Linked DNA regions of Homo sapiens: region 2 is linked to region 1. A link means that fine-mapping ties the variant in region 1 to the expression of a gene that starts in the linked region. Tissue or cell type: whole blood. Region 1 holds a variant in brackets; the other region holds the start of a gene. All regions are shown on one strand. Distances are between the middles of the regions.

Region 1 (5,148 bases):
CCCTTGGGCAACAGGGTTGAGGGTGGGGAGGAGATTGACTGTGTTTTCCTCTCATTCCTTGGCTCAGCTGTTGGCTCCTGGGACCCTGTGCCGCGAGCAGGCCAGGCAGTGTGACCTCCCGGAGTTCTGTACGGGCAAGTCTCCCCACTGCCCTACCAACTTCTACCAGATGGATGGTACCCCCTGTGAGGGCGGCCAGGCCTACTGCTACAACGGCATGTGCCTCACCTACCAGGAGCAGTGCCAGCAGCTGTGGGGACCCGGTAAGGCTCTCCTGGGGAGCACGGCTCTCCCCAGCCCACCACTTCCCAGCCAGCCTCCCCTGGCCCTCAGGGTAGTTTGGAATCTTGGCTTCAAATGGCACCTCTAGATACTACCTCTTTCATCCCCTTGACTCAGGGTAGATGTTCAGGGAGAACCAGAGGACAGTGTTCCTTCCCAGTCCCTTGATGCTTTTATTTCTCAGAGTGGACAATTGAATAAGAGTAATCCAAAAGAAAAATGAGCAGAGGATGGAGACAGAGAAGCAAATGCAAATGGCCCTTAAGCTATGAAAAGACGTTTAATCTCAGTCATATTAAGGGAAAGCAAAGTATAATTATGATGAGGTGAGATTTTTCATATATCAGATTGCAAAGACTGAAAGTTAAGATAATAATAATATAACAACAATAATAATGATATAGTGTTGTGGAGGGTGTGAAGAAACAGGTAGATATAACCACTATGGAAAGCAATTTGGAGATATACTTAGAAATGCAGCTAACACTTGCACATGTATGTGAGGATATATTTACTATGATGTTTACTGCACCATTGTTAGCCATAGCAACAACAACCTATGTGTCCTTCAGTAGGGACCAATTAAATTAATTCTGGTACATTCATATAATGCAATGCTTTATGGCTAAATAAGGAGGCAGCCCTATATTTACTGAATAAAATCATCTTCCACAAAAAATTAAGTGAAAAATGCAAGGTGTAGAACAGCAAATAAAATATGCTTTCAAGCCAGATTTGGTGGCTTGCACCTGTAATCCTAGCTACTCAGGTGGCTGATATGGTGGCTTGCACCTGTAATCCTAGCTACTCAGGAGGCTGAGGTGGGGGGATGGCTTGAGCCCAGGAGTTTGAGGCTGCAGTGAGCCACTCCACTCTAGGACTCCAGCCCAAGCGACAGAGGGATGTACCATCTCAAAAAAAAAAAAAAAAAAAAAAAAAAAGACTGGGCACAGTGGCTCACGCCTGTAATCCCAGTACTTTGGGAGGCCAAGGCAGGTGGATCACCTGAGGTCAGGAGTTCAAGACCAGCCTGGCCAACATGGTGAAACCCTGTAACTGCTAAAAATACAAAAATTAGCCAGGCGTGGTGGTGGACGCCTGTAATTCCAGCTACTCGAGAGGCTAAGACAGGAGAATCTCTTGAAACTGGGAGGCAGAGGTTGCAGTGAGCTGAGATTGTGCCACTGCATTCCAGCCTGGGTGACAGAGCAAGACTCTGTCTCAAAAAAAATAAAAAAAGAATATGCTTCCATTCTTTATTAGATAGATTATCTCTAGAAGATACACACAGAATTATACCTAGGAGATACAGAAATTAGAGATTTAAGTATCTTTAGAAAATATACTGTTAATAAGTGCTATTCCTCCAGGATGTAGAGAAGTAGGAACTGGATGACTACAAGAAAAATTTTCCAAGACATACTTATATCTTTAAAATATTATGCATGTATGACCTATTTTTTAAAATCTTGAATCGGAACATGGCTTCTTCATTAGAGAGCAGGCTTAGCATGCAACCCTCCCCACACACAAATATAAATCCTCAATAAGGTAGGAAGAATTTACATAAAACAGGCCAGGTGTGGTGGCTCACGCCTGTAATCCCAGCACTTTGGGAGGCCGAGGCGGGGGGATCATGAGGTCAGGACTTCAAGACCAGCCTGGCCAAGATGGTGAAACCCCATTTCTACAAAAAAAATAAATAAATAAATACAAAAATTAGCCAGTCATGGTGGTGGGTGCTTGTCATCCCAGCTACTCGGGAGGCTGAGGTAGAGAATTGCTTGAACCCAAGAGGCGGAGGATGCAATGAGCCGTGATTGTGCCACTGTATTACAGCTTGGGTGACAGAGCGAGAATCCATCTGAAAGAAAAAAAAAAGGATTTATATAAAACATTATTCTCTGAGTAGATCTTGTTGAGAATATGGGGATGGAGTAACCTGGAGGGAACAGGAAGAAGAGGCTGAGTATTCCCTCCCAGAAAATATTCTTACCTTCATGACTTTACCAAAGATACCTTTGCCCTTGGGGGCTTCTGACAGATGAGTATACTGATAGATGTTGCTTGCCCACCCAGGAGCCCGACCTGCCCCTGACCTCTGCTTCGAGAAGGTGAATGTGGCAGGAGACACCTTTGGAAACTGTGGAAAGGACATGAATGGTGAACACAGGAAGTGCAACATGAGGTGATGACCAAAGGGCAGGCCTCATGAAATGAGGATGAACAAG[C/T]AGTTTCTGCTCTGTCCTCACTGTTGCCCAACTCAGCAGTGTGACTGGCCCCAGAGCTGCACCTTTACGTCAATCAGTTGAAGTCAGTCATCTATTCTCGGCCCCCTGTTTGACAATGCACTTTTCAGCTCTGAGGAAGTCAGAGGAGGGTGTGGGTGGCAGTGCTTCCTAGAAAGCTGATCGGGCTTCCTTTGGGGACCATCTTACAGTAGGGCAGGGAATCAGCCCTTTTGGGTCATTTCTGCCAAATTCTAATCATGCCCTAATTTGAATAGCTCCTCATTCATTAATTCACTCATTCATTCATTTATTCATCATTCATTCCAACCAACCATCCACTCATCTGTCTACCCATCCATCCATCCATCCATCCATCCATCTATCCATCCATCTACCACCCACTCACCCACTGATCCATCCATCTATCCATCCTCCACCACCCACTCACCCACTCATCCATCCATCCATCCATCCATCTGTCCGTCCATCTATCCATCTACTATCTATTGAAGATTTACTGTCTATCTACTATCTATTGAAGATTTACCATGTGCAAGATATTGTGCTGAGTGCATGGAACTTCTAATTAACAATATAGTATGACAATGGCAATGTGGAGAGAGCCATCCAACCCATCTTAGTGTGTCAGAGTGGTTTCCCAAAGGAAGTTATACCTACACTGAGATCTGGAGCAGTTACCTCGGTGAACAGGGTGGAAGGTGGTGCTGGTGCATAGGAGAGTAATCCAGGAAGAGAGATGAATAGAGAAAAACTGGTGGTTGAAAGAACTGAGAACAGTTTGATACAGTTAAAGTATAATGTTGGGGTGCAAAGGAGAAGGTCTGCTGAGAAATTAGCCTGGATAGTTTAGCATGGACCAGATCATGAAAAGCCTCAAATGCATGGCTAGGGGAGTTTAGATTTTAGCTTGAGAGCAGTGTGAAAATTAGACTCCTATGAGGCAGACTGGAGGCAGGGAAATCAATCTTCTGCAGACCAGGTAAGGGGGGTGGGGCAGTGTGAATTAAGGTAGATAGATAATAAGATAGATAATTAAGGAGGGAAGATTGATAGGGTTTGAAAATGGCTTGAGCCCAGGAGTGAGGGAGAATGGGGAGTTGGAGATGACCCCAGATTTCTAGCTGGAACTCCTGGGTGGACAGCGGTATAAGGGGCAAAAAGGGAAAGATTGCTCAGCTCAGGTGGCTATTCTTGGAGTTAAGGACTTTTCGAGGCCAGTTCTCTGGTCTAGATTTGCTCAGGGTCAAGGAGCCTGTTCTCTTCCCTTGGTGTCAGTCCACATGGAATCTCTCCTGGTGGGTTCCAAAGCACATGACTGCCCTAAACCTTTGCCCCACCCCACGCAAGCCTGCTGTCTTGATCAAGAAAGACTGAAGCTCTCTGGTGCCCCAGCTCTTCCTCTGCCTCTGATTCCGCTTCCTTCCCTCTCTGTCTCTTGTGCCCAGAGATGCGAAGTGTGGGAAGATCCAGTGTCAGAGCTCTGAGGCCCGGCCCCTGGAGTCCAACGCGGTGCCCATTGACACCACTATCATCATGAATGGGAGGCAGATCCAGTGCCGGGGCACCCACGTCTACCGAGGTCCTGAGGAGGAGGGTGACATGCTGGACCCAGGGCTGGTGATGACTGGAACCAAGTGTGGCTACAACCATGTGAGTCCCCTCCCCTGCTCACCTAGGAGCCAGCTGCAGAGCAGAGTGATTGAGAAGTGAGGTCTGAGGGAAGGATGCCTGGGCTCAGATGCCACCTCGCCAACCTCTGAGCCTTGGTGGCTCCCTTCATGAAGCGTGTATAGTGACAGCAGGCACCCACCCCAGAGAACTGTCGGAAGGATTAAAGAAAATCATCCCAGTAAAGCACTTAGGTGGCCTAGCTAGTGCCACTTTCATCCTCATCGCTAATTATCATAGGAATTAAAAATGGACTAGGAGTTAGGGAAGCCTGAGCAAAATAATAGCACAGACTCTATCCTCCAGAGTCGATTCTGATAATGAAACTATGGAAAACATGAAGCATTTAGCATAGCACCTGGCACAGAGTACTGTCACCATCATTATTTTTAAATATAATGTTAAAATTGATACATATTAATGACAAGTAATTAACATAATCAACATAATAGTCCTTTAATGTGATAACACATAAATAATATTGTATTGTTAAATATGATACTTTAACAATATATTTGTCGTTTTCTCCCTAATCACAAAAGTAATAGCAGAATTTAGTTGGCTGTTGTCCTGTCCTTAGCGTTGTGGGCTGTTTTCCATTTTTCACTTTGATAGTAACCTGAAGTGTGCTGCCTATTTGGGCCCTCATACTTTTTTTCTTTTAAGATGGAGTCTTGCTCTGTCACCCAGGCTGGAATGCAGTGGTACAATCTCGGCTCACTGCAACCTCTGTCTCCCAGGCTCAAGCAATTCTCCTGCCTCAGCTTCCCGAGTAGCTGGGATTACAGACACAGGCCACCAGGCCCAGCTAATTTTTGTATTTTTCGTAGAGATGGAGTTTCACCATGTTGGCCAGGCTGGTCTTGAACTCCTGACCTCTGGTGATCCGCCCACCTCAGCCTCCCAAAGTGCTGGGATTACAGGCGTGAGCCACCAGGCCGGGCCA
Region 2 (5,148 bases), 81 kb before region 1:
GGCCTACAGGGCAGAATATCCAGCCAAAGAAGATTGTTGTAGAGCATTAAGATCTGATGGAATTTGCCTTGCTAGGTTTTGCACTTTTGGGGACTGTCACCTTGTTCTTTTCAGTATCTCTCTTTTGGAATCAGCACGTCTATCCTATGCCTTTCCCACCACATTGTATTTGGAAGCTGAGAGGAATTTTGCCTCAGGATGAAACAAACTTCAAGTCTCACCCATATCTAATACAGATGAAATTTAGATGACACTTCAGACTTGGAATTAATGCTGGAATGAGTGAAGACATTTGGGCTGCTGGGATGGGGTGGATATATTCTGCACGCGAGAAGTGTGAAAGGAAAATAAATCTTAGGACTCCCAAATCACTAAGCCAAGGAAAAAGTCAAGCTGGGAACAATGTCAGGCAAACCTGTCCCCCATTTTATTCTTTTCTTCTTTTTTTTTTTTTTTTTGAAATAGAGTCTCACTCTGTCGCCCAGGCTGGAGTGCAGTGGCGTGATCTTGGCTCACTGCAACCTCCCCTTCCGAGGTTTAAGCGATCTCCTGCCTCAGCCTCCTGAGTAGCTGGGATTACAGGTGTGCCACCACGCCTGGCTAATTTTTTTTGTATTTTTAGTAGAGACAGGGTTTCGCCACATTGGTCAGACTGGTCTCGAATTCCTGACCTCAGGTGATCTGCCCGCCTTGGCCTCCCAAAGTGCTGGGATTACAGGCCTAAGCCACAATGCCAGGCCACCATCCTATTCTTAAATAAGATAGCTACAAAGAGAAACAGCTACATACCTTCCTCACAATTTTCACACAAGGAAATTCCTTGTGGACAAAGGACAGACAGAATTTAAAGCCATCCCTCTGAGGCTCACCGGAAACAAATGCATATCTGATTGCTTCTTCTGCCCTATTGTTTATGTAAAAATGTAGATTCACTGAGCTAGACTAAATTGTGTATTCAGTGGAAGGTTGATCAAGGACTCAAAAGAATGTAACCTCTTCTGTTTCTTATCTACTTATAACCTGGAAGCACCACCCTTTCTGCAGCTTGGAGTTGTCTTGCCTTACCGGACCGGAAGCAATGTACATCCTACACATATTGATTGATGTCTCATGTCTCCCCAAAATATATAAAAGGAGGCTACACCCCCACCACCCTGGGCACATGTTGGGACCTCCTGAGGCTGTGTCATGAGCACGTTCTTAAGCTTGGCAAAATTAACCTTCTAAATTGACTGAGACCTATCTCAGATATTTCGGGTTCACAGAAAGATACGAATTTTACAGCAGCTGGAGACTAACGGAGTCCCAAACGACATTAATGGCCAGAACCACTTATTTGATTTCCCTCATGGGTGCCCATGAGTAGGGTTTGATAGACCTACCTACCCATCATCTTCAGGAGTGCCTCGCCCTCTCCAACACTTAGCACTTCTCTAGTCAACCTGGGTTTGACTAAAGAGGCTCAGAAAAAGGAACAGATGGACGAGGTTTGAGGCTGGGATTCTACAACGAGGCTTTGCTAAAACTTGCTGAGGGATCTTAGGCAAGTCATTTCTCTCTCATTATCAGTTTCTCCACCTGGAAAATAAGGTGTGTTGCATCAGGCTCTGGAGTTATACGGATGTGGGTTTGAATCTAGGCACTGACATTAGCTGTGTAATCTTGGGCAAGTGGTTTAGCCTCTCAGGTTTGATTTCCTCATTTCTAAAACAGGGATAGTACTAGTACCTACCCCATGGGATTACTGGGCTAATGAAAAGAGATAATGTATGCAGAGTCCCTGGCTCATAAAAGTTATTTTCTCCGATTAATTAAATAAGTGAATATGTGTAAAGTGCTGAAGACAGCGTTTGACACTTAGCGTTTTATCAGTCTTAGCTATCATGATTTTCTTATTCTAGTACATAGAAAGTCCTCAATAAGTAACAGTAGTTATTATTATTTTTGGTCACATGTCCCTGTGTTTCCCTCCAAAACCCTAACCATCCCCAATTCTGGTTTTCTCCCCGCATGCAGCCCAAGGGTTTTCACGTCCCAGTGCGATTGTCTGGGCTGTTTCCTCCGCCTGATGTTCCATTTCTCCTCCTCCCGATCTCAGATGGCTTCTCCTCTGGGATTCCTCTGGTCTTCATCACTCCCTCCTCCCAGGCAGAAGGAATGGCTCCTGGATTTGTGTCCTGCTTAAAAAAAAAAAAAAAAAAAAAAAAAAAAAAAAAAAAAGAAGTCCATATAGCACTTAGTTCTTTGTGCCTGGCGGTTGGGTTAACTCTTTCTGAGCCTGTCTCCGAGAGTGGCGGCCCCCGGGGGACGGCGCTGGGTGAATCACCTCTGAGTGTCACCCAAGGCGTCTGGCACAGTGCGGGACAGTAAACGGGCCGCTGTGCGGAGAGGGGTCCAGTTTAACTCCTAGAAGCCCGAGTCCCCGACCCTCTACAGGCCGCGTCCACCACAAATCCCTCCTCCTGGGGGGCTCGGATTCTCCCTTCCCCGCGGTCTCCCTCACCTGAGCCAGCCCCGCTCCCCCGAGTCTCGCCAGCTCCTCCCCGGCCCCTCCCTCCAGCCCCCTCCGGGCTGGAGCCTCCCCTCCTCCATCCCCTGGCGGAGGCCCGCGGGGCTGGAGGCGGAGCGTCTCGGCAGAGGGCTGGGAGCCGGGTGGGGAGGCGCGGGGCGAGCCGGGGGGTTCCAGACGCGCCTCCACCGCCGGGCAGTGGGCAGGTATGGCTGAGGGCGTGTGAGCGCCGAGCGCTAAGGGCCGCCGCCACCATGCCAGGGGGCGCAGGCGCCGCCCGGCTCTGCTTGCTGGCGTTTGCCCTGCAGCCCCTCCGGCCGCGGGCGGCGCGGGAGCCTGGATGGACAAGTAAGTGGCCAGGCGCGGGGGGATGGAGGCTGGGTGGCCCGGAGACCTGGGAGTAGCCTTGCGGGTCCGGAGCGCTGGGACCGCGACCCCTGCGCCTCCCGCAACTCCGCGGGGCCTGCGCCCCCGCCGTCCCCAGCCTGGGAGCCCGGGCTTTGTTCCCACGTTCTGCGCCCTGGGAGGTGGCAGAGGTCGGGGAAACCCGGCGCAGCCAGAAAACAGCCGGTCCGCTCACTGGCTAGCCTTCCCTTCTCGCCTTCTCCTTCCTCTGTTTTTCTGCTTTTGGCTTCTCTTTCCGCCGTTCTCGGGGCTTATCCTCCTCCGTTTTCTCACGGTCCCTCGTGTCCGCTCCGCCTCTCTCTCTGTCTTTCTCTCTACCGCCCGCTGCACTCGCCAACGCCGAGCATCCCGAGCGCCCTGCCCGTGTGGCCTGGGAGCGGCTTCCTGGGACCAGGCTCGGTGCCTGCCACACTGGTGGGGTAGGACATAAAATGCCCGCGGCAGACTGTGGTAGCCTTGGCTAGGGGATGGCTCGCTGGGTATCTGCAGCCACACACTTCGGATCCCCGAGCTGGCAGGAGCCCTACTGAAGGCCAAGTCAAACGCACCCATTTCACAGATGGGGAAACCGAGGCCCACAAAAGGGAAAGGACTTGCCCAAGGCCACGCCACGGGTTGAGGTCCGCGGTGGCACTGGAAACCAGGGCTCTCTTTCCACGCCAACCCGACGGCCGCCTTCTTTGGTCCTCAGTTTCCCCTTCTGTGAAGCGAAGGGGTCTGACTCGATGTTTCCAGCTAAGATGCCGGGTGATGTCCGTGTTTCTCAGGACTAGTTTCCCAGACACCAATCCCCTCCCCGGCTCCATCCCTCGGGGGCTATAAGCAGATTTCGCGGAAGGCTTGGTCCCGGGGGGCGGTGCCCGGGTTCTCTCATTATGACCGGAGAAGGCTTAGCCCTGGCTCCACCGCTGCAGACGGGCTGGGCTGACTCCAGACTGCTGCTTGGGGGACCAACAGTCAGCGTTTTCAAATAGAGCGAGCACCGGCGGAGCGAGGGTGGGCTGGCTGGACCCCCGGGCCGCCTCAAACCCAGAGGCTGAGAGCTCTTCCGACAGTTCGGAACTTCCAGGGGCCGAGGTCGGGCGGTCCTCCCAAAGGGCTCAAAGGAACCGCCCTTTGAGCTGTTGTTCCGAAGGGGAAACTGAGGCACAGAGGAGGTTCTAGGGTAGCACCAGGCCTGTGTCAGTGCTTAGTGCAGGAGAAAAGCATGAAGAAAGACAAGGAAAGCTAGTTACTGCTCCTAGCACAGGCGCCTTCTCTGAGTTTTGAGTCCTTGGAGAACACTTGCTGTAGAATATCTGGGAAATAACGAAAAGTGTAAAAGAAAATGATCTGCAACCCCCAAATCCACAGTTGCTGTTGATATTTTGTTTTTTTTCCCCTCCACATTCTTTGTGTGTTCCTATGGATATATATTGATAAAATTGGAACCATACCCATAAGTACAGTTTCGTGTCTTGCGTTTTTCACTTCACACCATGAGCGTTTTCCACATCATCAAATTCTCTGTAAAACATGATTTTAATGACTCTATACAAAGTTTTCAAAAGTTAAAAACACGACTCATACAAATGTGGCCAAGATTTATTCAACTCATTAATGAGGTAGCAAACAGGAGAGTAAAGCTGATTCAGGGAGCATTAGAAAGGGGTGATACAAGCATTGGAGAAAGAATGTTGAAATCATGTGGCCCAGGGCAGATGCAGAAATGGTGGATGCCCCATGAAGCAAACCATAATTCTTGGTTATCTTTCTTTTTTAATTTCCTTCCTTCATTCCTTCTTTTCTTTCTTTTTTTTTTTTTCAGAGTCTCTATCTGTTGCCCAGGCTGGCATGCAGTGGCACGATCTGGGCTCACTGCAGTCTCTGCTTCCTGGGTTCAAGCTATTCTCCTGCCTCAGCCTCCTGAGTAGCTGGGCTTATTGGCATGTGCCACCACACCCGGCTAGTTTTTGTATTTTTAGTAGAGACGGGGTTTCACCATGTTGGCCAGGCTAGTCTCAAATTCCTGACCTCAGGTGATCCGCCCGCCTCGGCCTCCTAAAGTGCTAGGATTACAGGCGTGAGCCATTGTGCCTGGCCAGGTTATCTTTTTACTATGCTGAAATCACTTACATCTCTGTCAGACAGAATTCTATAGATATATATAGATTATATAACTTCACAGAGTGTAGCTTTTAATCAATGGTAAATAAAAAGTCAATGGTACATTCCCCTAGATAATGCAGTAATCC

The links. PIP is the estimated chance that this variant, and not a neighbour inherited with it, causes the effect.
Region 2: ADAM19 starts here. The variant in region 1 is fine-mapped to the expression of ADAM19 in whole blood (INTERVAL, PIP 0.95).

Annotation. Positions count from the first base shown.
Region 1 is chr5:157,492,009-157,497,156 of GRCh38, reverse strand. ADAM19 (ADAM metallopeptidase domain 19) reads left to right here. Exons shown (of 23, transcript NM_033274.5): 14 at 68-263; 15 at 2,362-2,470; 16 at 3,980-4,184. Among named protein-coding and RNA genes, the nearest start is that of NIPAL4, 34 kb to the right of the region's middle. RefSeq lists an enhancer at 161-662. The variant C/T (reference allele first, on the strand shown) is at 2,514.
Region 2 is chr5:157,573,312-157,578,459 of GRCh38, reverse strand. ADAM19 (ADAM metallopeptidase domain 19) reads left to right here and starts at 2,685. Exons shown (of 23, transcript NM_033274.5): 1 at 2,685-2,857. The coding sequence starts at 2,764. It overlaps LOC124901121 (a long non-coding RNA gene), which reads right to left and starts at 3,481. Exons shown (of 2, transcript XR_007059018.1): 1 at 3,090-3,481; 2 at 1,850-2,180. RefSeq lists enhancers at 1-53, 54-670, 671-1,286, 3,144-3,223, 3,460-3,989 and a silencer at 2,534-2,973.